Linked DNA regions of Homo sapiens. The protein of the gene in region 3 purifies or fractionates together with the protein of the main gene of each other region. This does not show direct contact. Each region holds a gene or a part of one and is shown on either strand. Other genes may lie near its edges. The genes, in order: LACTB2, MTPN, LAP3, ZCCHC17, CLIC4, TKT and MDH1.

What was found.
Region 1: the proteins of LAP3 (region 3) and LACTB2 fractionate together in Homo sapiens (co-fractionation; one large-scale study listed by BioGRID). This does not show direct contact.
Region 2: the proteins of LAP3 (region 3) and MTPN fractionate together in Homo sapiens (co-fractionation; one large-scale study listed by BioGRID). This does not show direct contact.
Region 4: the proteins of LAP3 (region 3) and ZCCHC17 purify together in Homo sapiens (affinity purification with mass spectrometry; one large-scale study listed by BioGRID and IntAct). This does not show direct contact.
Region 5: the proteins of LAP3 (region 3) and CLIC4 fractionate together in Homo sapiens (co-fractionation; one large-scale study listed by BioGRID). This does not show direct contact.
Region 6: the proteins of LAP3 (region 3) and TKT fractionate together in Homo sapiens (co-fractionation; one large-scale study listed by BioGRID). This does not show direct contact.
Region 7: the proteins of LAP3 (region 3) and MDH1 fractionate together in Homo sapiens (co-fractionation; one large-scale study listed by BioGRID). This does not show direct contact.

The regions. Positions count from the first base shown.
Region 1 is NC_000008.11:70,666,386-70,670,455, forward strand, and holds the start of LACTB2 (endoribonuclease LACTB2), read right to left. Parts: upstream 2,801-4,070; 5' UTR 2,736-2,800; coding exon 2,614-2,735; intron 1-2,613.
Region 2 is NC_000007.14:135,970,860-135,974,359, forward strand, and holds part of MTPN (myotrophin), read right to left. Parts: intron 1-3,500. UniProt on the Homo sapiens protein: Promotes dimerization of NF-kappa-B subunits and regulates NF-kappa-B transcription factor activity. Plays a role in the regulation of the growth of actin filaments.
Region 3 is NC_000004.12:17,575,930-17,579,997, forward strand, and holds the start of LAP3 (cytosol aminopeptidase), read left to right. Parts: upstream 1-1,268; 5' UTR 1,269-1,536; coding exon 1,537-1,638; intron 1,639-3,894; coding exon 3,895-4,010; intron 4,011-4,068. UniProt on the Homo sapiens protein: Cytosolic metallopeptidase that catalyzes the removal of unsubstituted N-terminal hydrophobic amino acids from various peptides.
Region 4 is NC_000001.11:31,338,532-31,342,031, reverse strand, and holds part of ZCCHC17 (zinc finger CCHC domain-containing protein 17), read right to left. Parts: intron 3,076-3,500; coding exon 2,984-3,075; intron 1-2,983.
Region 5 is NC_000001.11:24,839,447-24,842,133, reverse strand, and holds part of CLIC4 (chloride intracellular channel protein 4), read right to left. Parts: intron 2,275-2,687; coding exon 2,093-2,274; intron 1,362-2,092; coding exon 1,197-1,361; 3' UTR 1-1,196. UniProt on the Homo sapiens protein: In the soluble state, catalyzes glutaredoxin-like thiol disulfide exchange reactions with reduced glutathione as electron donor. Can insert into membranes and form voltage-dependent multi-ion conductive channels.
Region 6 is NC_000003.12:53,228,523-53,232,022, reverse strand, and holds part of TKT (transketolase), read left to right. Parts: intron 1-472; coding exon 473-666; intron 667-1,401; coding exon 1,402-1,566; intron 1,567-2,586; coding exon 2,587-2,743; intron 2,744-2,885; coding exon 2,886-3,016; intron 3,017-3,500. UniProt on the Homo sapiens protein: Catalyzes the transfer of a two-carbon ketol group from a ketose donor to an aldose acceptor, via a covalent intermediate with the cofactor thiamine pyrophosphate.
Region 7 is NC_000002.12:63,595,463-63,598,962, reverse strand, and holds part of MDH1 (malate dehydrogenase, cytoplasmic), read right to left. Parts: coding exon 3,444-3,500; intron 1,565-3,443; coding exon 1,389-1,564; intron 1-1,388. UniProt on the Homo sapiens protein: Catalyzes the reduction of aromatic alpha-keto acids in the presence of NADH. Plays essential roles in the malate-aspartate shuttle and the tricarboxylic acid cycle, important in mitochondrial NADH supply for oxidative phosphorylation.

The DNA.
Region 1 (4,070 bases), on a different chromosome or scaffold from region 3:
AAAGGATGAATGAGATTAGCTGGGTAAAGAAGGGAGGAATGAGTGGAAGAAAGAGGAAAGCATGCGTGAAGGCCCTGAGACAGGGAATCACAAACCTCATCTGAGACACTAGAAGGCCAGCATGGCTGGAGTGGGAGAGGTTTGAGAGGAGCCTGATAAGACTGATGGAGGCCAGAATACACAAGGCCTTCCAGTTTTAATTCCTAAAATACCACTCAGGCTACAAAGGGAAGATTGGATTGAAGAGAGACAGAGGTAGTCGTACAGAAGCCAATTAGGAGGCTATTACAGTAGCCTAAGCAAGAGTTGTGCTGGCTTGGACTGAGTGACAGCAGGGGACATGAACAGATCTTCATAATGGCTTGGATATGCAGTAGGAAGCAAATAAATGTCAGGAAGGGTATTTAGGCATTTCCTTTGATGGCTTTGTTTATCAAGATATGAACAACTGAAGGAGGACCTGGCAGTTTTCTGGAAAGGTTATGAGTTCAGTATGGAAAACACTGAGTTCCAGGCAGCAGTGAGTCATGCAAATAGATTTAAAAGTTGGCTACTTGAGTCTGAAGATCAAGTTTGGAATTTGAACTTGAGCTATATATTTGGTAGTTAATAATAAACAGATAATAAAGGCAAAGCCAAATAAGTAGATGAGATCACCTAGGTAGAGAATACAGTAGAAGAACATGAGAGATGAGGATTATATACTGAATAACTAAAATAATTAAAGATTTGATAAAGAAGATGACTCTATCAAGGTGAAAGAGAAAGAGCAGCTCAAGAGGTAATAGGAAACCTGAAGAATGTGGTGTTGGCAAATTAAGGAGGGAGTCGTCAATGGTGTCAAAGCACTGAAGTTCAAGGAAGATGAGAACAGAAAAATACCATTGGGGTTAGTGATACAAAAGCCGCTTGTGATCTTAGAACTGTTTTGTGAAGCGGAACAGGTGGATACCAATCTCAGAACATCTGACAAGGGGCCAATTAATATTAACTTCTAGCCACCTTTTACTTTACACCTTTTACTTTATACAGTAGCATTATCTACACTTATTTCTAGCTCAACTATACGGACTCTCTAGTTCAACTATATGGAGAAATAATTTACATAGTGCAAGTAATTCCACTGGCCATTCCACTCCATTAATTTATGTGAGCAACAGTGTTAAGTAATTTAAGACGAGAGACTATAAATCTGCTTTTCCCTCAGTTAGTCTTTAAGTCTCTCTTAGCACTAGCACTTTGCTATGTTGAGTGTGATTATAGTGTTTAAAGATACAGTATGTATTTTTCATACAATATAGCCCCTCAACACAAGCCAATTTCTTCACCTGGTTTTCAAACAGAATCAGCCATCTGTTTCAACGCTGGAAAAAAGGCAGGTTGTGCTGAACTTACTGAGACAATACACTGATCTCCAACATGGTGTTCTTCTAAGAGACTTTCCAGGGTAATTCTGATAATATGCATCTTTTGTCTGAGGTATTGACTAGTTCAAGATGACACACTGTAGAGAGACCGCCTATGGATTTACTTGGTTGAGGGACTTCCAGCCAAGACAGACTGTACCCTAGAGATCTGGCATTTTTCCTGCTTAATTCTCTATCCTCCTAGATTCTGGTGGCAGCCTAAACCTTTGGTAACTACCTGACCCTGCCTTATTTACTCTGAACTTAATCTTTTACCTGCCCACTTTGCAGGTCTGCTGCTTCTAAAATTCTTATTTACTGGAAAAACGCCAAACAGTAGACACTTCCAAGGAAAACTCAATTAACTGTACTTACTAAATCGTTTTTAGTAATCAATTATATTTTAAAAATAATTTATGTCTTGACTGCACAATTAAATTCTATGCTCAAGAGAAACTACATTATCTGGGTTCATCCAGTAAAGACTACAAAAGTTGCTAAATGCCTAAGACTTACTATGCAGTAAACCAAATCTCCCATTCCTGCATAATTCCACTAAAACAGAATGCAGCTAAACAAGAGCAAAAGTATCTTCTTAGAAATACAGGTGTGTTACTGTGTCTGCAAATTAAACTCAAACAAGGTCACACACAATTGTAACAAAAAACTTCCCCAAATTACTTATGTCAGCTCCTCTTATGAGCCCACAGGCTGCAGAGAACCAATTTGGAAGCCAGGAGAATCCTGCCCTCTGCTGCTGAGTTGAGGAAATCGCCTCAACATAATTAATCGCTTTTGAGAAGGGAAGTTACACTCTGGGCAAAACACCAGTGAAAGTCAAGTGAGCAAAGTAAACGCTTTCTTGGACTCTTGACATCCGAATTTTCTCAACAGTTTAAACACGCACACCCTGGCATTCAAACATCAAGAACAGTAAATCGGGTTTCAAAACAGAAGTTTTTTTTTTTTTTTTTTTTTTTTTTTCCATTTCTCCCTAAATTAGAGAGCTATCACCTGGGGTGGTCGTATTTTAGCTAGCTTCGAGATCCGAGTGTCTGCGTGCAGTCCCGACGGGGCTGCTAGGCGCGGGGCTGCCCAGCTAGGGACAGGACGCGGCGCTCTCCACTGCCCGCGCAGCCGCGATCAGTCAAAGCCCGGGCTCCGGGGCCGGCTGCGAACGTTGGGGAGGTTGGAGAGGGACGTTTACCTGGGGCCGGTCCCCACTAGGTAGGTGTTGGTGCCTTGGAGGGTCATGGGACCCGGGTTACAGCCCAACACACGCACGACTCGATTGGACAGCCGCTCGACGCGCTGCAGTACAGCAGCCATTCCCGCCTCAGCCGCCCGCCGGCGTGTCGCCTATCTGGATACTCCAGCGCGGAAGAAGCCAACAGGCCGGGGATAGCGAGTAGCGTCCACGTGATGCCTCGCAACCCGGGAGGGAGGGGATTGGCCAGCGGCTGGTCCAGGTGTCATGTGACACCGCGGACGAGCCGGGGCGGGGATCCGGCAGCTAGGCCGGGGGGTGGGGGGGGCGGTGCGGAACTAGAGGTCACGTGACGCCGCGCGGGCTGCGCGGGCAGTGGTGGGAAGGCTGGCGCGAGGCGTGAGGTGGCGTGAGGCGAAGCTGGAATCTGCCTCTGTCACGGGGGCTGGTGCCTCACGGGTTTGTGTCCTAGACAGGCGAGTGGATCCAAGTGGGCGAGAGACATTTTAATCTGGAAGAGTCTTGTGATTTGGGAGACAGGTTTGGTAACCGTTCGTTATTCAGTAATAAATGTCAGGAAGGATTGCCAGATTTTTAGGCAGTGGCTCTGTGTGTGTGTGTGTGTGTGTGTGTGTGTGTGTAGTAGTAGTAGTAGTAGCCTGTTCATTTTTTTTTTTTTTTTTTTTGAGACGAAGTCTCGGTCTGTCGCCCAGGCTGGAGTGCAGTGGCGCGATCTCGGCTCACTGCAAGCCCCGCCTCCCGGGTTCACGCCATCCTCCTGCCTCGGCCTCCCGAGTAGCTGGGACTATAGGCGTCCGCCACCACGCCCGGCTAATTTTTTGTATTTTTAGTAGAGACCGGGTTTCATTGTGTTAGCCAGGAAGGTCTTGATCTCCTGACCTCGTGATCCGCCCGCCTCGGCCTCCCAAAGTGCTGGGATTACAGGCGTGAGCTACCACGCCGGGCCAGCCTGTTCATCTTTTATAATAAATAGTGGTAAGACATATTTACTTAGTACTTCCTACTATGCCTAAGTGCTTTCAACAAACATCCGACTTAACGCCCTTAATCCTCAGAACATTATTAAGAGGTGGACACTATTTTTGTTACAAATGAAAAACGGGGATTGGGCAGCTGCCCAGATGACAGAGTCTGCGTGTGCGGCCTTGCTCCTACCTGCCTCGCACTAACACTTGTCCCCCTCAGTGAGATTCAAGGAGCATGCCTCTGCCTGCCAGTGTTACCTGCCTGCCCAGAGAGCTAGGCTGGTCTTGTGGAGCCGTTTTGTGCCCAAGATGGAAGGGACTCATTTTCTCTGTAACAAGTCGGTTTCTTATCAGCCAAGTATTAACTATCCAGTGTTAACTACAGCTTCCCATAAAAAAAGTTGAGTTATAAATTACTTAAAAGAAAATACACAGATCCTGTAGACAGTTCCATCGAGTTATGACAATTGT
Region 2 (3,500 bases), on a different chromosome or scaffold from region 3:
ATGCTTTCTGAATAGGTCACCAGCCCTTCTGTAGAAAGGGCAACACACAGTGATACATTTTTATAAGAAAGAAACTAATAATTTAAAGAAGAAAAAAAAGGGAAGCTGCCTAAAACCAATAAATGCAAAGTAGATTGAATCAGGACCTCTTTTAAATTGGCTATTTTATTAGGAAAGTGAAAAGTGATCTCAATGAGTCTTGGAATTTCTAAAGATTAGAGTTGATATCTTTCTCAGGTTCAAGAGATTCTATCCTTTCACATGGTGCACAATTGTTGCTTTTCAAACCTATTAGAGTGTCAACGGCAGATGTAATTAGAATGGAGGCTGGAGGGAAAGGAAACCACAGAGAAAGGGAAGTTAGAGACCAGGCTTCTATTTCACAGCAAGTGAAATAGAAGTACATGTAAACAAGAGAGTACATGTATCAGACCTGCTGAAGATTAAAAGGGGCTATTTATCAATGCAACTCACAAGCACTCACCTGTAAGCATGTTGGATCCTCAAAATCCACCAGAAAGCTCACCTTTTAGTAGTCTCAATGGATAATTACCATCCTGCTATGATTATTTTTACTATTTACTCAATAATATAGTACCCCCCTAGTTTCTGGCCTTATTGAGAAATGAAGGTCAAGGGTATGCTGAAGTAGTTAACAGCATGGGGCTTTTGAAACTCCTTCAGAACCCAAGGAAGTGAGTTCACATCTCAGCTTCACCACTTAAGAACTTTATGATCTTGAGCAAGTTATTTAATCTCTGCCTCTAAAATCTCTAAAATGGGGTTAACATTATTAATAATGCTCATGGCTTACTGTTGATAAGTAAATGAAATAATACCTGTATACTGCATCACAATCCTCAAATACATAAAATTTAATAAACATACTTTTTTCAAAATGTTACTTGTTTTATTTAAATAATTATGAATAGAAATCTCAATAATTTAGTTATTTTTGTTTCTTCCTAAGGCAAACAAACAAAATTTAACTTTTTCTGGACTGTGTAGGATCACAATTAGGAACATAAATTATAAGGTTAGATTATATGTGACCATAAATACAAAACATTCTGCAGGCTATCAGTCACTCTTATGGACACGTCTTGAGTAATGACAGTCTCTGATGAGAGTTTAAGTTTACAGAGATGTTTGTCTCTATACTAATTATTTCTGAATTGTTACATTTACAATTTTTAAAATACGGTTGCCATTTTTGTCTTCATTCACAGTCAGAGCTAATTAGTTGTACCGGCTTCTTACAAGCCTCTTTCTCGTTTTCTTAATTCTAAAGTGTTGTTAGCAAAAAAAAAAACCACTTTTAAAGCAAACTGATATGGTTATAAATACACACGCGCACACGCGCACGCGCGCGCACACACACACACACACACACACACACACCCCATGTAGATTCAGACAGTTCTGGGTTTAAAATCCAGTTATGCTACTTAGTTTGTGACCTTGTCAAGTTACTTCAGTTCTCTAAGCCTCAGGTTCTTCATCCTTAAAATAAGATTATTACTTATACTGAAACACTGTGGTAAGAAGCAAATAAAAACTTAGGTAAAACATCTTGCAGAGTGCTTTCCAGTACCTGACAATGTAAGTCATCCAGTCAATGGTAATTATTATTCTGTAATTAATGAAGTATGCTGAAATTATTGCTAAGTTAAGAATAAAATGAATTTCTTACCAGAAACATGATTTTAATGTGTAAAATTCCTTGGCGCTATGTTGGAGACAGAAAGATGAAAAAGAATATATTATCTACCCTCCAGGAGTTCAGAGCCTAATGAAGACACATGTAAACAAAATCACAGCAATCTGATGAGCAAAACAGTAAAAGAAGCAGCACTCTATGTGAAGTCAATCTTTTTCAGCCAGTCTCCCTCACTGCCCTTAAAATATTAATACTTTTGTGATTTCTCATTGCTTATTTTAAAAGGGCCAACTCCTCATCGGTATGGTGTTTTTCTGTTAGAGGTGATACTTACCCTAGGAGGGTAAATAGGAGTTTAACAGGTTGGGGGTTAGGGATTGAGGTGAGCAGACTTGGTCAGGGAGGATGAAAGAACACATGTAAAGATCTACAAGGAAGAAACAGGATGGCAGGGTCTGGAGCAGAGTGCTTAGAGAGAGGCAAGTGTAGAAAAGCAAGCCCAGATAATAGTGGCCTAGTACACCATACCAATGAGGAGCTGGCCCTTTTAAAATAAGCAGTGAGAAATCACAAAAGTATTAATATTTTAAGGGCAGTGCAGGAGACTGGCTGAAAAAGATTACATGCTTATATTCATGTTATTGAGAGATCCCTCCACCTAAACTGTGTAAACTGACCAGGAAGGGGTCAATTTTTGCTGCTTCTTTCCAGCCTGGACTATATATTCTTTCTTGACTATTTTCTTATAGTCAAGAAAGAAAATATAGTCCAGGCTGGAAAGAAGCAGCAACTGATCTAAAGTAGTAAGAAGAAAGGAGAGTGAGGAATGGATGAGGGAGACTAAGAAGGTAGTCTTGGTAACCCTCAGAAATCTAGGAAAATTTCCCAGTTTCCAGTTTGGACAAATGGTTGGGTCATGATACCATTAGTGAAAATGGAGACACAATAGGAATAAAAACAGTTTTTGAGAGGAAAACAGCTCAATTTGGAATTTGTCTGAACAGAGCTTATGCAGTCTGAAATTCAGGTGAGGCTAGAATTAACTCCAACAGGAGAACATAAAGGCAGAAATGTAAGACAAAGTCAAAAATAATGTCACCCAAAAGAAACATCCAGATCAAAAATGGGGCTATGAATATCTCTTATAGCTGCTCATGAATACCTTATTTTCTGGCTTTCACTTGTTTTCCAGCCGGACAACTGAATTTTATGAAAATGAGATGTTATTTATAATTTGCATACTACTATAAAAGTATGAATTTTTTTTCACGCAGGTCTGCTAAATATAGATGCTTACGTTTCCTGAAAACTGTGTCGAACTTCTGTACTATCATCCCAGGACTACTAAAGAGTTTAAGACCTGAAAGATGCCTAGTAAAAATGAATGAATTAACTAAATGTGGTCCTTAAGTCAGTCAAGAAGCCAAATGTAGTGTTGAAAGACTTTAAAATTGCTTCAGATATTGTCTTAAAGTTATACATGAAACATTTAATGTAATAATCTAAATTTTTCTCTAAATAATCTAAATTTTTCTCTCAATACTGTCTTTTCCATTTCAAAATACAATTTTCAGTGGTTTGGGGACTGTGAACTGACTTTTCTAAGTTCAAGAACTCACCTAAAACCAATGATTTAGGGATACTCACACTTCGAACTTTAATAGAGAAGTCAGAGGCAGGTAGAAAAGTGTAATTACTGACTTTTAAAAATACTAATTTATAAAGGAAAAACGGGTTCACACCTGTGAACCAGTGCTTTCACACCTGTAATCCCAGTGCTTTGGGAGGCCGAGGCCAGAAGATCGCTTGAGGCTAGGAGTTTGAGACCAGCCTGTACAAC
Region 3 (4,068 bases):
CAGACCTTGAATTCCAGCTACCAGTTTGAAGATCCCCAGAGAGGAATGGGGTCAGCTTAAGAATACAGGTTCTTCAACGCCCTGTCCCATGACTTCACCCTGCACTCTTCAATCAACGATCTCCACACTATAGCCCTCTCCAAAACCCTTAAAAACCTTGACCCCAAATTCCTCAGGGAGATGGATTTGAGGTTTCCTCCCATCTCCTCCTTTGGCGACTCCACGATTACACCTCTTTCTCTGCTGCAACCCTGGTGTCTGGGCGTATTGACTTGCTATGTGCACGAGTCAACGAACCTAATAGTGTTACATCATTTTCAAAAACAGTATTTACACCGTTGCACCTGTGGAACAGATGAAAGGACACGAATAAAAATAACTCAGGCCAGGTGCGGTGGCTCACGCCTGTAATCCCAGCACTTAGCGAGGCCGAGGCAAGTGGATCACGAGGTCAGGACTTCGAGACCAGCCTGGACAACATGGTGAAACCTCGTCTCTACTAAAAATACAAAGAGTTGCCGGGCACGGTGGCTCACGCCTGTAAGTAATCCCAGCACTTTGGCAGGCTGAGGCGGGTGTATCACCAGAGGTCAGGAGTTCAAAGCCAGCCTGGCTAACATGGCCAAACACTGTCTCTACTAAAAATACAAAGATTAGCCAGGTGTGGTGGTGGGCGCCTGTAGTCCCAACTACTCGGGAGGCTGAGGCAGGAGAATCTGTTGAACCCGAAAGGCGGAGGTTGCAGTGAGCCGAGATTGCGCCACTGCACTCCAGCCAGGGCTACAAGAGCGAGACTCCGCCTCAAAAAAAAAATCCAAAAAAACAACAAAAAAACACAAAGATTAGCTGGGCGTGGTGGCGGGCGCCCCTAATCCCAGCTACTCGGGAGGACGAGGCAGGAGAATCGTTTCAACTAAGCAGCGGGAGGTTGCAGTGAGCCGAGATCGCTCCATTGCACTCCAACCTGGGTGACAGAGCGAGACTCCGACTCAAAAAAACCAAACAAACAAACGAAAACTCAGTGGGAGTGTCTTCACTATGCAGTCGTCTATTCAGCAACCTTGACAACAAGCTCTGGCACTCAGTTTCTATTTCCCGGGAGTTGCCCAGCGCTCCGCCCACGCCCGCTTGCAGAACTCGCCCCGCCTCCGCCCCACCCATCGTGTGACGTCACCATATCGGTCCCGCCCCTCTACTTCGCGTTGCTCCCGGGACTGTCAACCGCGTCCGGAAGCCCCGCCTTTTCGCCCCCGCCCGCATGCGCGGGCGCACACGAATGCGGGCGCACACGAATGCGGGCGCACACGAATGCGGGCGCACCCTTGAGTCCCCTCCACAACCGCGGTTTGATCCCAGCGGTCCAGTCGGCCGGTGCTGCCCATCCGTCCCGCCCCCTAGACGCACGTCCGCTCGCCCGGCGCCCGAGCCAGTCCGCGCGCACGCCGTCTGCGCCCCGAAAGCCCCGCCCCAAGGCGCGCCCGCCCACCGCTCTCCACGTGCTCGCTGGAGGGCGGTGCGAGGGGCCGAGCCGACAAGATGTTCTTGCTGCCTCTTCCGGCTGCGGGGCGAGTAGTCGTCCGACGTCTGGCCGTGAGACGTTTCGGGAGCCGGAGTCTCTCCACCGCAGACATGACGAAGGTGAGAGGCGGCGGCTCGCTCATGGTCCGCCGCTGGGGCCCTGCCCGTGGGCTACTGGGGCTGCGGGGCTGGTCGAAGCCGCGGTGTCCTGGGCGCCCAAGCCAAGTTGCAAAAATCAGTTTAAAAGAAAAATTCTCTCCTTGCGGGGATCGGCCTAGGCCGCTGAGGACCCCAGCGGTCGTATTGAGGGCGCGATTCCCCTGCTCGGGGCTAGGGGGTGATGGTTGTAGCCGCCCTTTACCCGGCTCCACTCGGCCGCGCACTTGCTCCAGTCGTCACCCGCGGTCCTGGCAGTAACCCGGGGAAAGACGCGGCGGTGGGGCTCCCATCCGAGCTTGGAGGAAGCCCGAGTTTGCCAAGGTGAAAGGGTTTCTGAGGTCCCAGAGTCACAGGGCTCCTTCCCCCGCGGAAGTGAAAGGTCAGGGAGTTAAGTAGCTTGGAAGGGTTTCTAGAGGAAAAGCATGCCTCTCTAGAGAAAAGGGCTTTGGGGAGAGACCCACGTTTCCCAGAATTAAGAGCATCTTCCAGAAGAAAAGTGAACTCCAAAAAATTACGAAGGTCGCTCTTCAGATGTGAAGGATCTGCAAAGGGAATGGCTCTCGGAACCAGCACAAGCTTGGGAGTCATGCCTAAGCACCAGAAAGAGATGACTGTCCCTGCAGAAGAACGTTCTAGGGGGAGCTTGAGCTCCAGTCTCCTGCAGGTATCTCAGTGGTGGAGGGACCAGTCGCCTGACCAGTGCTATCTCCAGTACTGTGCCACAGCCTACCCAGATAACAGTTGCTCAGTTGGCTCCATTGATTCCCGGGGAGTGAACAATCTTAGGGAAGTTAGAACCTGGCAGAGTTACCAATGCCAAGGAAGGCCGTTTTCTTTGGTGGAAAAGACCGAGAGGGCACTATTCTAAGTGTCTGTGTGGTTTTGTGGAAAGATCAACTGCTGGGCGGGAAGACATCTGGATTCTCACTCAGTCCTACCACACCACACAGGAGCTCCTGTCTCAAACTAGGTTTCAGTTTCCTTATCGGTCAAGGGGGATAAGGCTACTTGTTCTTTCCACCTCACAGAGTTGCCATGAGGCAGACAAAACATTTTTAAAGTCATAAATTGCCGTGCAAAAGTAAATACTAAGTATTACTAGGTTTGCTTCCTCATTTCTGGTATTTGAGACCTGAGACTTGTGAAGGAGATGAAGGGAGTGAGCCGCTAAGTGCTTAGCAGAGTGCTTCTACCCTCCCTAGGAAGTTGGTACTTCTCTTACAGCCTCTGTGTTGACCACAGTCCTTACGTGGCAACAGTCCTTACGATGGGAGGCACAGCCATTGGCTTGACTGGAACGGCATCCTAGAATATCTGGGATTTGCACTTGAGGATTGTAGGGGAGGAAAATCTTCCCTCTATCCTCCTAGGTTCTGTGGCTGGGCCTAAGAAAACTGACATAAGATGTATTAACAAGAGAAAAGGATACAGATTTTATTTACTATTTTTACGTGTACACAGGAGTCTGCAAGAGGAAAATGAAGACCTGAAGAAGCGTTGGGCCCAAAAGCTTGTATACCTTTTTAAACAAAGAACAATGCATTGTGGGGGTGTGACAAGACAAAGGGGCTTGGGTTAGTAAATTGTGGAATAATGACTAGGAAATCATATGGGGGTAACTAACAGAAGATAAGGGTGAGTTCAGTAGGTTTATTTGTACAGGTCCATTTTGGTGTTGACTTCCAGTTTCTGGTGATAAGAATGTTCTCCTTTTCCTGGTACAGGGAGATCACCTTTCTCATGGGAATTTGTGTGACCTGCTTTTAGGGAGAAAGGGAGGTCAGAGAGTACCTCTGCACCTGCTGTTTCTCAAGCGCCTTTGGCTGAAAATAACTAATGTGCCAAAGCGGTATATTTTGGAGTGGCATGTTCTGAATCCTTTCAGGGTCTATCTTGGTGACAAATAGATTTTTCTTAAACAAAACATCTTTCTGCTTTATTTGAAAGTGAAGCCGTCTCCTAGGAGTGAGCACAGAAACCCAGGGCAATGTCCAGGACGGGCAGTGATGGGTCTTGCTTTGGCAGGAATCTGAAACACTTGGGCAGGTGCACATGTAGCTGACCCCAGCACCTGCTTCTTTTTTTGCTTTCTTCTGTCCATGGGGAGGACACGGTTTGGGTGGAATTATTTGTTCCTTCTGGAATTTGGGGACTCCTGAGCCTCTCTAAGGGATCTACTCTAATTCTATTATATTTACGTTTTTTGCTTATTCCCAGGGCCTTGTTTTAGGAATCTATTCCAAAGAAAAAGAAGATGATGTGCCACAGTTCACAAGTGCAGGAGAGAATTTTGATAAATTGTTAGCTGGAAAGCTGAGAGAGACTTTGAACATGTAAGTGTTGCTTGTGGGCTCTAGTTCTTAAAGTGCCCCCAAATCGAAACAGTATTTT
Region 4 (3,500 bases), on a different chromosome or scaffold from region 3:
CATCAGGCACAATGGCAGACAAGTCATGGTCTCTGTTTTTGTGGGTCTTACACACACACTCTTTCAAAAGCAAAGGTGTGGTTCCGTACACCATAGTATGAGGAAAAAAGAAAAGGTGCTATAATCTCAGATATTAGAGGATAAAACAAAGCGGCATTTAAAACAATAACTACAAGTAGCTACATGTATGTCTACCATAGACTAGACATGAAGCTGGCTCCTTACAAATAAGATTTTACTTAAATCACTCAAGCATTCCTTAGATATATGTTACTGTCTCCTTTTATAGTAAAGAAGCTAAGATTCAGATAGACTAATTAATCTGCTCAAAGTCATATATTAGTTTGGAGCAGAACCAGTACTCTTTCTGATTCAAGTCTAGCTCTAAATCCTCTAATCATTCCATTATGCCATGCTTCCTTCCTGGATGCAGCTATAGACATAATTTACAACAAAAGTTACTGTTTCAGCCACTTGATTATTACTAAAAATAGTTCTACACAGAGACAGCCCAAAACCAGGGAGCCCTTTCCCTTCCCTACCCATTTTCTGAGAAACAGGGTTAGCTCTTTTATCTTACATGTTTTATATTTTATCACTGTAAGGGTGGCTTTGGGAAATTTCACTATTTTTTAATGAGTCCATATAGCATTGGATTTTTTGGAGCAGAAGCTATTTATTACAATGCAATCATCAGAATTTTTTCTTTTTCCTTTTCCCAACACTAACTTGAACCACAGCCAGATTTAAACACTTCTGCACTCTGAGTTATAAAAGATTCCTACTATTACTGACAGTATTTTGTCAATAATCAGCCTTACAAACATGTTAATATTTAGAGACTAAACCACAGAAATATGAAAAGTTCTGTAAGTCACATGCAAGAGTGAGAAGCATTTTGTGGTGAAAAGGGCATTAGCTTTAAGGTCAGAGAGACTGAGTTTTGAGTCCCTGATAATTTTCTATGTAACCACAGGTAAGTTACTTATCACCAGGCACCAAGCTATAAAGTAGGAATATAAGGTAAAATGGAGATAACATCCACTTTGCAGGTTGTTATGTACCCAAGAATGTACATAAAATGCCTGGCACTGCAGTATGTATTCAATAACATTTCCCTTACTTCCAGATAAAATTCCTTCAAATTCAAAGTGATTTTGCTCAGAACTATAAACATAAGGCTTTCCAAACTTTTCACCAATAAGATCCCACTCAAATAACATTCTATCATTTTTCTTGTCTTTTAAATTCATCAATGACATAATTGTCATTGAGCGTACCTAATTAACATAAGACAAACAATGTGATATTTTATCATCAAAAGCAACAAAATAACAGCATGGTTAACCTGAGGACACACATAGAATTTTGGATGGCTTTCTAAAACACTAAAAACAGTTAATAAACCCTCCAAGGGCCGGGCGCGGTGGCTCGCGCCTGTAATCCCAGCACTTTGGGAGGCCGAGACGGGCAGATCACCTGAGGTCGGGAGTTCAAGACCAGCCCGACCAACATAGAGAAACCCCATCTCTACTAAAAATACAAAATTAGCCGGGCATGGTGGCACATGCCTGTAATCCCAGCTACTGTGGAGGCTGAGGCAGGAGAATCACTTGAACCTGGGAGGCGGAGGTTGCGGTGAGCCGAGATTGTGCCATTGCACTCCGGCCTGGGCAACAAGAGTGAAACTTGTCTCAAAAAAAAAAAAAAAAAAAACCCTCCAAGATCCCCCTTTAAGAGACTTTAGGGATCCAAGAACCTCCGATGAGAAATTTAAGAAAGAAGCCTGGGCATGGTGGCTAACAATTGTAATCCCAGCACTTAGGAGACCAAGGTGGGAGGATCGCTTGAGCCTAGGTGTCCAAGAACAACCTGGGCAACATAGGGAGACCCTGTCTCTACAAAATAAAAATTAGGTGTGGTGGCGCATGCCTGTAGTCCCAGCTACTCGGTAGGCTGAGGTGGGAGGATAGCTTGGGCTTGGGAGGTCAAGACTGCAGTAAGCCGTGATTATGGCACTGCACTCCAACCTGGGCGACCCCATCTCAAAAAAAAAAAAAAAAAAAAAAAAGAAATCCAAGAAAGACTTGAGACAGACAGAACATTCCTTGTATTGCCAGACATTGTCCTACATAGATAATTTCCCATTCCTAAATGAAAGGTCAGAAGAGCCAACGAAAGTAAGATGTTGTTTTCAGAGCACAGTGTATCCCAAGATGTGGGAGTCTAAACCCCGCTGGAGTTGTTCCTGGATTACTCTACCCTTCCACGTGGTCTCTATGTGGAAGAGACCCACGTAACCCCACCTGCAGAAATCACTGGGAGAGAGGTAAAGAATAGTTCTTCATGAATGCTTATTAGCTAACTCGTTAAAGGGCAGAAACAGAAAGAGATTAAGGGAAAGGAAACAAAACCATTGATGGAGCACTCCAATGCCAGGAGCTTGGTACGTTAACGTTTCATCTTAGAACTCTATGCAGCAAGGTGTTAACTATTTTTATTTTATTACTTTATTTTATTTTTTGAGACCGAGTCTCACTCTGTCATCCAGGCTGGAGTGCAGTGGCATGATCTCAGCTCACTGCAACCTCTGCCTCCTGGGTTCAAGAGACTCTAGTGCATGACTCAGTCTCCCGAGTAGCTGGGACTAGAGGCACGCACTACCACATCCAGCAAATTTCTAGTTTTGTATTTTTAGTAGAGACGGGGTTTCGCCATGTTGGCCAGGCTGGTCTCAAACTCCTGACCTCTTAGGTGATCCGCCCACCTCGGCTTCCCAAAGTGTTGGGATTACAGGCGTGAGCCACCACGCCTGGTCTAACTTCATTTTACATTTCTAAAAACCAAAGATTGCAAAGGTTACGTAACTTATCAATATCACAAAGTCCATAAATGGTAGAGTTACCAGTTCAGTCTGATTTACTAAACCATTTTATGATTTGGGAGGCAGAAGAATTTTCACCTTTCCAAACCTTTTACTTACTCAATGATAACATTGTTGGGATCAAGGTCTTTCCCAGTCCCTTGATTGACAACCTTCATGGAGAGGGATACTTTTATTCTATCATTTTTCATCTGAAAGAGACCAAAAAAAGTCACCAAAAACTTTAAATACATCATTTAGATGGCCAGTCTAAAATTAAGAGTCAACGTTTTCATCATAACATTGAGCTTCTTTAATGGACCAGGTACTGTGCTAGGAACATTGCAGATACAAATAAGCATAACAGGTAGACCCTGTGGCAGAAGAATTTTAGGAAACAGTCTTAATCTCATTCTTGTCCCTCTGAGGGAAAGACAAAAATGGTAGCTCAAAAAATCCATGGCTTGTGGAAGTAACCAGGCAGAAAATAAAAGTTTTTCTTCCAGGTAAGTTCAGCATAGTGATTTGTTGAGATATCCCTAAGTCCAGAATAGGTTTTTGAATACTTCAAGAGACTAGATCTCCTTCTGGACTTGGTCTAGAGCTTCTTTAAGCATGAAGACATTTGTCACATTGG
Region 5 (2,687 bases), on a different chromosome or scaffold from region 3:
AGGCAAAACTACAGTAAATACACACTCACCATAACTATAACTTAGTCCCAAAGGAATGAACAATCCTCTATACAAGGTAAATGGGGTGAAATGAGAAAATTGGTGACCTGTGTTTTATCTTTCTTTTATATAGGATGGATAACGCATTCTTTAGGTCATCTACATTAAATGTACTTTAGAAACAAAAATTTACTTGATATTTTGACAAACCCACCCTTCATTCCTTAGGTTAATTTCTGTGTTAATTTTTACATTACTAATCATTGTACTGCTATAGCTAAGTCAACTAAAAATCAGTTATGTAGTGTTGCTCAACAGATGTACAAATAGCAAGCTCTATGATTACGTAAAAACAAGCTTTTTAAAATAAAGAATGCAATAAAGTTCCAAATGAATGGCACAGGGCAAAACACATATAACAAACGTATTTAGACAGAGTATCAGGTGCCCATCAGTTTCTCTTCTAAAGATAAAATGCTTGAGGAAGGTCTTGAGAAAACCCTCACTCCCTCTAAACTTTTAGCTTCTACATGGTGTCAGATGTTACAATTGGTATGAAGGATAAATGCTTTTAGGCAAAAGTAAAAATCTATCTACAAAGCAATATAGCAAAATCTGTAGTGACTTTTGTAGAAAGCTCTCTTCTCTGGTGGTAATATTCGTTAGTACATATCCAGGATAGACTAAATTGAAACAATATTTCTGATACAGTAGCAATCCTTTCATATACTCTTACTAAATATTACAAAATTCCAAAAAATACATAAATATTTCTTGTACCATGCATTATGCACCAGTTTGGGGCTGCCTGATAAAGTCGTGGCTACTATTTTTAACAATTAAACATTGCACCTCAAAAGTTCTGCCATCTATACACAGTGAATGGACACAATGGTGAGGGCTCCTGAGAGATGGCAAGCTACCTCTAAAGTGAAAAGTTTGTGGTGGAGTGTCTCCAAATTAAAGAGAGGGGAACCCGGGTAGGGGAGGTAGCCAGGGTAAAGGATTTTAAAATAATACTGCTTAGGAGTGTATATTTTAAGATAACTACTATACCTTGTCTATCCTTGATCCTAATCTTCAATAACTGCATGTTCGTGCAAAATACAATTTCTGCTCTACAGGAAGGAGTAGCCTGTTAGGAAAAGCGTATTCTTAGGGGAAGACATGAAGACATCTCTTTTACAAACGCGATTTTACTTGGTGAGTCTTTTGGCTACATCACTATATGCTATTTCAACCTCCTTATCACTGGGACAGGTATTGGTGAACTCGTCCCTACTGTATGCATTAGTTAGGTATCTCCAGATGCCAGTCATTTCTTTTGGAATATCAAAGTTGCGATATTTTTTGGCCACCACCTGAAATACAAAGAGATCAAAAGTTAACAGACTTATTTCCACGTCTTGTAAACTAGACATATCTCTGATTTTGGAGCAAATAATTAATGCTCTAAATCTTTGAGAACTGCTTCTATATGAAAAAAAGTCCATCACCATCATTCTAACCAGAGTTTTAAATAATGACCAAGACTGCAAGCTACACCAGGGATTTAGAAGTGTGACAGTGACTGCAAATAACTGCCTTGGACATCCAGAAAGACAGCCAAGTATAATCACTGGAAAATACTTCACAACACACATATGCTATTTTAGATCTGTTTTTGTTATCTTAGGTCTTTATTTACAACTAGCGCTTATTATTATTCTATTTAACAATGTGCCCAGCCCAGTGTCTCATATAATAAATGCTCAATACTTTTTGCCTTCAATAGAGAAAGCAAGGTGTGATCACAGAACAGAATTTGATAACATAAGTCAGTGTGGCAAACTCCAATTCAAAGTCACGCATTATATCTTTGAATTTGTATGCAGTCACAGAAAAAAAAATATTCATCTTTCTTATATTCCTCAATTTTAAGACATAATTTTCCATTTAACTAACTCTAGGGTGCTTCAACTATTGCCTAAACAGCATTGAGTTAAACAACTAGTCATATAAAATCAGAAATGTTTTGAGCACAAAGGAAATGCCACTTTAGTAAATACAATACAAGGTAATGGCAATGCGACATCAACCCCTACAGACCTACCTTGACAATATGCAGTTTGGGCAGCAGGTTGCAATCAGCTAATGTCATTTCATTGCCATCCAGAAATTTACGTGTAGAAAACTTTATGTCCTCCATACTATTTTCATCAATTTCATCAGGGAGAGGAGAATTCAGATATTCATCCAGTTTCTGCAGGGTTTTCAGGAGACCCCTCTCCAGTGCTTGGGGGGGAAAAAAAGAGATGAGAATACTGTAAGAAGGAAAACCACTCAAGTCCCCAAGGAGAAGCAGACTCTTTGAGTCAATAACTGTTTAAAAATGTTTACTCTGAAACAAGGTACTGTAGAACAAAACAGACAAGGCTCCTGCTCTCCTAGAGCTCAATTAGGTGGGGCAGGGGATGAAACAAGTTTGTTCAGGTAAAAGTATAAATAAGCATAATAATGTCAGGCAGTGGTATTTGTAAAAACTTGCTAACAAATGGCCGGGCGCGGTGGCTCACGCCTGTAATCCCAGCACTTTGGGAGGCCGAGGCAGGCAGATCACGAGGTCAGGAGATCGAGACCATCCTGGCTAACACGGTGAAACCTCGTCTCTACTAAAAATACAAAAAATTAGCCGGGCGTGGTGGCGG
Region 6 (3,500 bases), on a different chromosome or scaffold from region 3:
CATTGGGTGACCCTGGAAGCCCTGTTCTGGGCCTTGGGTTCCCCTTCTGATGGCCAGGGTCCCTTCCAACCCAGTCGACAAACTGAGTATTTCTGCAGCAGACACCTCTACCTGTGTGTGACCCTGCAGGCGGGGTTGTGGGGAGGAAGAGAATGGACACATTGGTGAAGGGATGGGGCAGTGGGCCCAGAAACACACACCTGCCCACGTCTGGCCCCTCCTTTCCCACTCAGCTGTGAGCTCCCAAAGGACCAGGCAGTAGACAGTGAGTGGTGGGCACGTAGGAGTCCATCCTATTCACTGCGACCCTCCTTTCCTGGCCCCCGTGCCTGGCTGGGCTCTGCCTGTCTGGGATGATGCCATTCCTCCCTTGCCCTCGGCAGGTAGAGGGCCAGTCTCCTGGAGCAGCCTCCTGGCCCTCTGGGAGCTTCTGTCTTACCCATTCCTCTGTCCTCCCGTGTTGGGTCTGCAGGGGTAGAAGATAAGGAGTCTTGGCATGGGAAGCCCCTCCCCAAAAACATGGCTGAGCAGATCATCCAGGAGATCTACAGCCAGATCCAGAGCAAAAAGAAGATCCTGGCAACCCCTCCACAGGAGGACGCACCCTCAGTGGACATTGCCAACATCCGCATGCCCAGCCTGCCCAGCTACAAAGTTGGGGACAAGGTACAAAGTGGGGCCTGTTTCTCTGAACCCATAGTTCTCAGGTTTCCCAAGTCTGTGGCCCAGATACACCCTCTGGAGGGCTGGGAAAGGGAGGAGAGCGATTCATTTAGGGCGAGGAGTGATCCCTGAGGTGTTGTTCCTGTCACTTCCCTCAGAATGACAGACATCTCTGGAGTTGACCTGCAGAGGCTCAGACCGGGCAAGGGAATTGCCCACTTAGCAAGCTTAGCAAGCTACTGACAGAACTGAGATCAAAGCCAAGGACTCACTCCCAAGTTCTTGCATCGCTGGTCCACGAGGGACCCTTGGCCTGAGCTCAGGACCCCCACCTGACCTGGGAAAGGCTAGGCAGAGCTGTCCCACTCCAGGTTTCTGTCCCAAGGGAACCCATCCATGCAGCCTGTGCCTGGCCTTGACTCCCAAGCCTTCTGTGTTCCCATGCAAAGTGGAATAGGTTCATGGACCTGGTGCAGCAGGCGGGAAGTTGGGGCTGGTGGGTGTCTTCTGTAGCTTATACCTTTCACAGCCAGAAGGGGCCGGGGCTCCAGGGGCTCCCAAGACATTGACCGTAGTCGTTGGCAACCTTTCAGCAGTTAAAAGCCTCTGCAGGACCTTGTGCTCCAGGGCTTCCATTTTTGGCCCCGTTTTAATCCTTCTCTGAAAGCAGGGCTCCAGGCTGCAGGTGTGCACTCACCCTCAGAGGGGTCCAGAGCCTTCCCACTCTCTTCCTCACAGATAGCCACCCGCAAGGCCTACGGGCAGGCACTGGCCAAGCTGGGCCATGCCAGTGACCGCATCATCGCCCTGGATGGGGACACCAAAAATTCCACCTTCTCGGAGATCTTCAAAAAGGAGCACCCGGACCGCTTCATCGAGTGCTACATTGCTGAGCAGAACATGGTAGGTGCTGGGGCCGGCAGGGACAGGTCCACCCAAGGCTGAGGGCTGTGGTCTGAGGGGTGCGGGGCAGCCATGTTGGCAGAGCCAGGTGCCTGCTGTAGGCCAGCCCAGGGAGACTATAAGAAAAGCCAGGACCCAGCGTTAACCCCTGACCTTGAACAGCCACAGTTTGGGAGGTTCTGCCCAGGTGCAAATGTCCTGGACAGGTGTGCACATGGGGGAGCCGAATGGGACTGCAGGTGCTCTCAGGAGGAGCTGCGTACAGGCCAGGCCTGGTGGTGAATGGGGTCTCTTCCAGGTGGAGGACAGGCCTGGCCAGTAGGTGGGGCCGTGATGGGTTTAGCAGCCCGAGTCTGTAGAGCACCTGTAATGCACACGGCTCTGGGCCCTGCCACCCTGAGGGATGCAGAGATGAGGGAACTCTGGGCCCCTGACATGTACCCATTTGGGGAAGCAGACCCTTGTCAGGAACTGAGGTTGTGAAGTAAGGAACAATGTTTTGTCCATGTTTTCAAAATATCCCCTCCTGGTGGTCCAGGAGCCCAGCCTGGCTTGCAGGCCCCTAGGGACAGGGAGCTTCCTCTCTCTGGAGGGCACTCAGATCTCCAGAGTTCTTCCAACTGGACCTGAAATTCTCTCTGTGGTTTCCAGAGACTGCTCTGCAGGGCGTGGGGCTGGGGAGGTCCCAGGTACTAGGGAAAGAGGCCTTGTGTTGGCTGGCAGATTTTGGAGCCTTGAAGGGCAGCTGGTTTGGAACTGATGACTGTACTCAGTGCTGCTTCTGGATGAGTGATTTGGGGCCTGGAGCCTCAGCAGGCATGAGGCTGCTGCCCTCGGACCCCAGGGAGGGGTTGGGAGGACCGGTCTCTGCAGAAGAAGGTGGTGGGGGACATATTCAGAAGCCCAGAAAGGATGGACAATCTATATACAAATTGTGGCTTTCTCCACAAAAGGGGTCCTAGGCTCCCCGACCACCCTCTGCCTGCCCCTTTGGGCTGACCCTGTCCCACCTGCCCCCAGGTGAGCATCGCGGTGGGCTGTGCCACCCGCAACAGGACGGTGCCCTTCTGCAGCACTTTTGCAGCCTTCTTCACGCGGGCCTTTGACCAGATTCGCATGGCCGCCATCTCCGAGAGCAACATCAACCTCTGCGGCTCCCACTGCGGCGTTTCCATCGGTGAGTTTAGCCAGGGTGTTTACACCTGGAGCTCCCTTGACTTTTGCACCAGGAGGTATGGGAGGGGGATGGGCCAGGATTCCAGCCCATGGATGGGGGGGTAGGGGTCTTATTTCTGCATATCCTTTCCCCCACACCCCAGGGGAAGACGGGCCCTCCCAGATGGCCCTAGAAGATCTGGCTATGTTTCGGTCAGTCCCCACATCAACTGTCTTTTACCCAAGTGATGGCGTTGCTACAGAGAAGGCAGTGGAACTAGCCGCCAATACAAAGGTAGGTTGCATGGCTGTTCTTTCTCCTGCTGGCAGCCATCACTTCCCAAGGGAAACAGAAGAGGAGGCCAGAGCTGGTCACTTGCTGCCCCAGGGGGTGTTTCCTGACCTTGCCCCTGGTGTTCGTGTAGCTTGTGGAAGTTAGACAAGAAAAAACGAAATACACACCCCACTTACTGCCACGTGGCAGACATTGTCAACTGATTGCCAGTCTGTCTCTGCTGAGAATCCTGGCAGCCCTGGCCGGTCCAGCGGTTGACACCTCTCCACCCTCCTGAGTTGGGTTCTCCAAGACAGGCAAGGATGAGCTGAGCCCTGTGGTCCAGGCCCGGAGCTGCATGCCACAGACCCAGTGCGCGTGGTTCCTGCCCCTCTGCCTGGTGCAGTCTGTGGGAGTAGCCCACCTGCAGCCAGTCTACCTGGTGGAAAGTTGCCTTCGGTCTGAGGCTGCAAGGTGGTGGGCAGTTCTCAGAGTGTTCAAGTGG
Region 7 (3,500 bases), on a different chromosome or scaffold from region 3:
TTTATAGAAAAGTTACAACCATATTACAGAGACTGACTCCCATATATCTTTTTTTTTTTTTTTTTTGGTACCTCTTTTGACAAGCTGTAGACAAGATACTTCATTGTCTCTAAGTAGTGCAGTGCTGGCAAATATTTCTCACGAACAAGGACGCTTTGAAGAAGTGGAATTACTGTGCAAGGAGTACTTTACCTCCAAATAGCCTGCAATTTAGCAGTCTGAACAATCTTCTAATCTTTTACTGGCACCTGTGGATTTCTATTAAACTCATTTATACTATTTTCTGTGATGACAGAAAATAAGTTAACTATTTAAAATGAAGTGCACAGAAAGCAAAAAATGCAGATATCTATGAAATGTTATTGATAGAACATTATAATGGGCAACTTAAAAAATCTTAAAAAATTTTCTTTCACCTTTTTTTGAAAGATAGGAAAGTATATGGAAATCAGTTAAACCTTTAACCGGCAAGCCTATTTGCTGGGTGACAATTAAGTTCTAGTTAATTGATAGTTCACTAATAAAAGAAGGTTTGGCTGGGCGTGGTGGCTCACACCTGTAATCCCAGCACTTTGGGAGGCCAAGACAGGTGGATCACCTGAGGTCAGGAGTTCGAGACCAGCCTGGCCAACATGGTGAAATCCCGTCTCTACTAAAAATACAAAAATTAGCTGGGTGTGGTGGCGTGCAACGGTAGTCCCATCTACTCACGAGGCTGAGACAGGAGAATCGCTTGAACCCGGGAGGCAGAGGTTGCAGTGAGCCAAGATTGCACCACTGCACTCCAGCCTGGGTGACAGAGCAAGACTCCGTCTCAAAAAAATTAAAAAAATTAATAAAAAATAAAAAAGGCTTACTGTAATATTAAGACATATTAGAATCTAAAGTAAATAGTTTGAACACAAAGAGAGAACTATAAGTCATACTGACTCAATTCTTCAAGAGACAAGCATATTAAAATTCCTCTGCATTAAGAAAATCTGAGCATTCAGAAACCACTATCTTCTATTCCTGAGAATAAACTTACCTTACAGCTAGCTATCTCCTTTCACAATCACACACAAATTTAAATGTCTAAATAAATATTCCCACGCAGCAAAAATGCACCAGAAGATCCTGTGCCTTCTCTATATGTTTAAGAACTAATACTAAATTTTCACGTTATACTAATAGGAAAAATATTTTTGAGCACTCTGAATATAGATTTCTATACTGTAAGAAAAAACCCAGAAAGGGAGAGCTTATCAAGCAAAACTCTAGAGCCGTATTTACTGATGATTGTACAGAACTAGAAAAAAGGGCAAATAATTTTGGTTTTGCTTAAATGCTAAAAGCATAAGTTTCAAATGCTAATAATGAAAAATCCCATAAAATACAGCATTGGTCACCTTAACTGACTTCTTGGCGTATTTATCTAAGGCTGCACCCTGGGATTTGAAGATTTTCACATTTGCTTTCAGTAAATCTTTTCTCTCCATGCCTTCCCTTCTTGGCATGGAGCCCACAAGAATGGCCACATCCAGGTCTTTGAAGGCAACGTCTTCTTTATCTGTTGCGATGACATCTGTGGACATGGCAATAAATACGCAGAGCTACTTAAACATCAAAGTTTGAAGTTTTCTTTTTCATATTGAATCTACCCATTAATTCTTTCACTTGTTGCAAGTGTTTACATATCACACTGATATACATTTCAGGAGCCTGAGAAAGATAATATATTAATTTAACAATCATAACATTAGAAATGTCAATAGATTTATTTTGCTTTTCCTGTTTCAATAATTACTTAAATGTCAAAACTCCATAGCTTTTATCTTTTATAATCATATATGATGCAAGGTATAATGATGACTTTTGAAGTGACACTTGTTATTCACACTAATTACCACACAACACAAAAGAGCAACTAATTCACCTAACCTTTAAATTACAATTACTTTAAGGTCTAAGACACCAATCACAAATTTAAAAATAATAAATGTTTATTGAGGAGTTTTGTGCCAGGATAATGCTAAGAGATTTATATTACTATCAAATTTAATCTTCTGATTTTATAGATGGAGACACTGAGGTTTAAAGAGATTAACTCGCCACCATCAAAAGATAATGGAGCTGTAATTCCAGCCTAGGTTGGTCCAGAGTTCAACCACTATGCTCCAGTGCTAGTACAATAAGCAAACATCACTTGCTTTTTGACTAAAGAACATAAGTCATCGCACTTCTTTGTTGATTGTATTAAAAAAGCTATGACCAACATTCAGCATTTTCACTGGAAAATTGGCTAGTTGCATCATAGTCAAGGCTGCCATAAGTCTGAAAATGGGCATAGACAGGAACACCAGTTGGAGAAAAAAAAATTATCTTCCTCTTTCCCAGTCACATGTCCTTATTTGCTGAACTTTCCCTTCCCTGTCATATTCATATCTGGCAGAGGACAAACCAACAGCAATCTGGGCCCTTTAGAGAAAAAGCACAGGGAACTCAGCAGAGAAAGGAATACAAATGGGAAAAAGCAGCAAAGCTGATTTGGAAAGAGCTGTGGGTGAGAAAAGGGAACCAACAGAATAGTGTGGGCAGTCATGTATTCTTCCACAGAACTTTGCAACCAAAAGACTTAGATGGCAGAGTATCCCTTCTAGCAAATGTTTATTCAACAGATGAAGAATTTTAAGGAAAGTTTTTCTTGGAAGGTATGTATTATTTTGCTTTGTGCAAACTTCTAGGAGAGTATCATTAATTAATCCTTACCAAAAGAAAGACTATGATGAAGAAATAGCTGAAGAAAAATATTTAAATTAATTTAGAATATTTTAATAAACTTTTCGATCAAATTTAAGGCTTCCTTATTATATCTGTGTTATAGTTCAATGATTTGCAAAGGCCCTTAGCTGAGCTCTTCTGGGTTTTTTCAAACTATAGAGCATATGGTAAGGACAATTTACACTATGTCTCAACCTGATGATTGGTAGATGGGATGGGGACCGTGTAAGAGGAACCAACCAACTTCCAGAGCAATGTATAGCTATGAAGGACATCCTTCAAAACTGAGAAAGTTTTCCATTACAGGATGCTACTATTACCAGTTAAGCAGACTCCATAACAACACAATGTAGACAATTCCTACGTTGTCTATAATGTGTGTGTGTGTAGACAATTTCAGGTGTATAACCCTTGTGCAATATTACACTTAACTGGTATAATAAATTATATACACACACACATTGGGGAAAAAAGGATAGTCCTTTACCTGACATTGATTGTTGCTCATTTCTTACCCTTATTTATCCTTGGTATACATAAGTAGTTAATAAACAGTGGTAGTTCAAAATAAAAAAATCCTCTTATGAAATAATTTCTAATTGAGAGCCTTTAACAAAAACCTAAAACCTGTATTTTGTAAGAAATCAAATACCATAAAATCCCTTCTCTACTCCCCAACCCACCTTTCAGGAGGGGAAGGGCACAGTCTTGCAGTTCCATTAGGACACCGTCCAGGACAC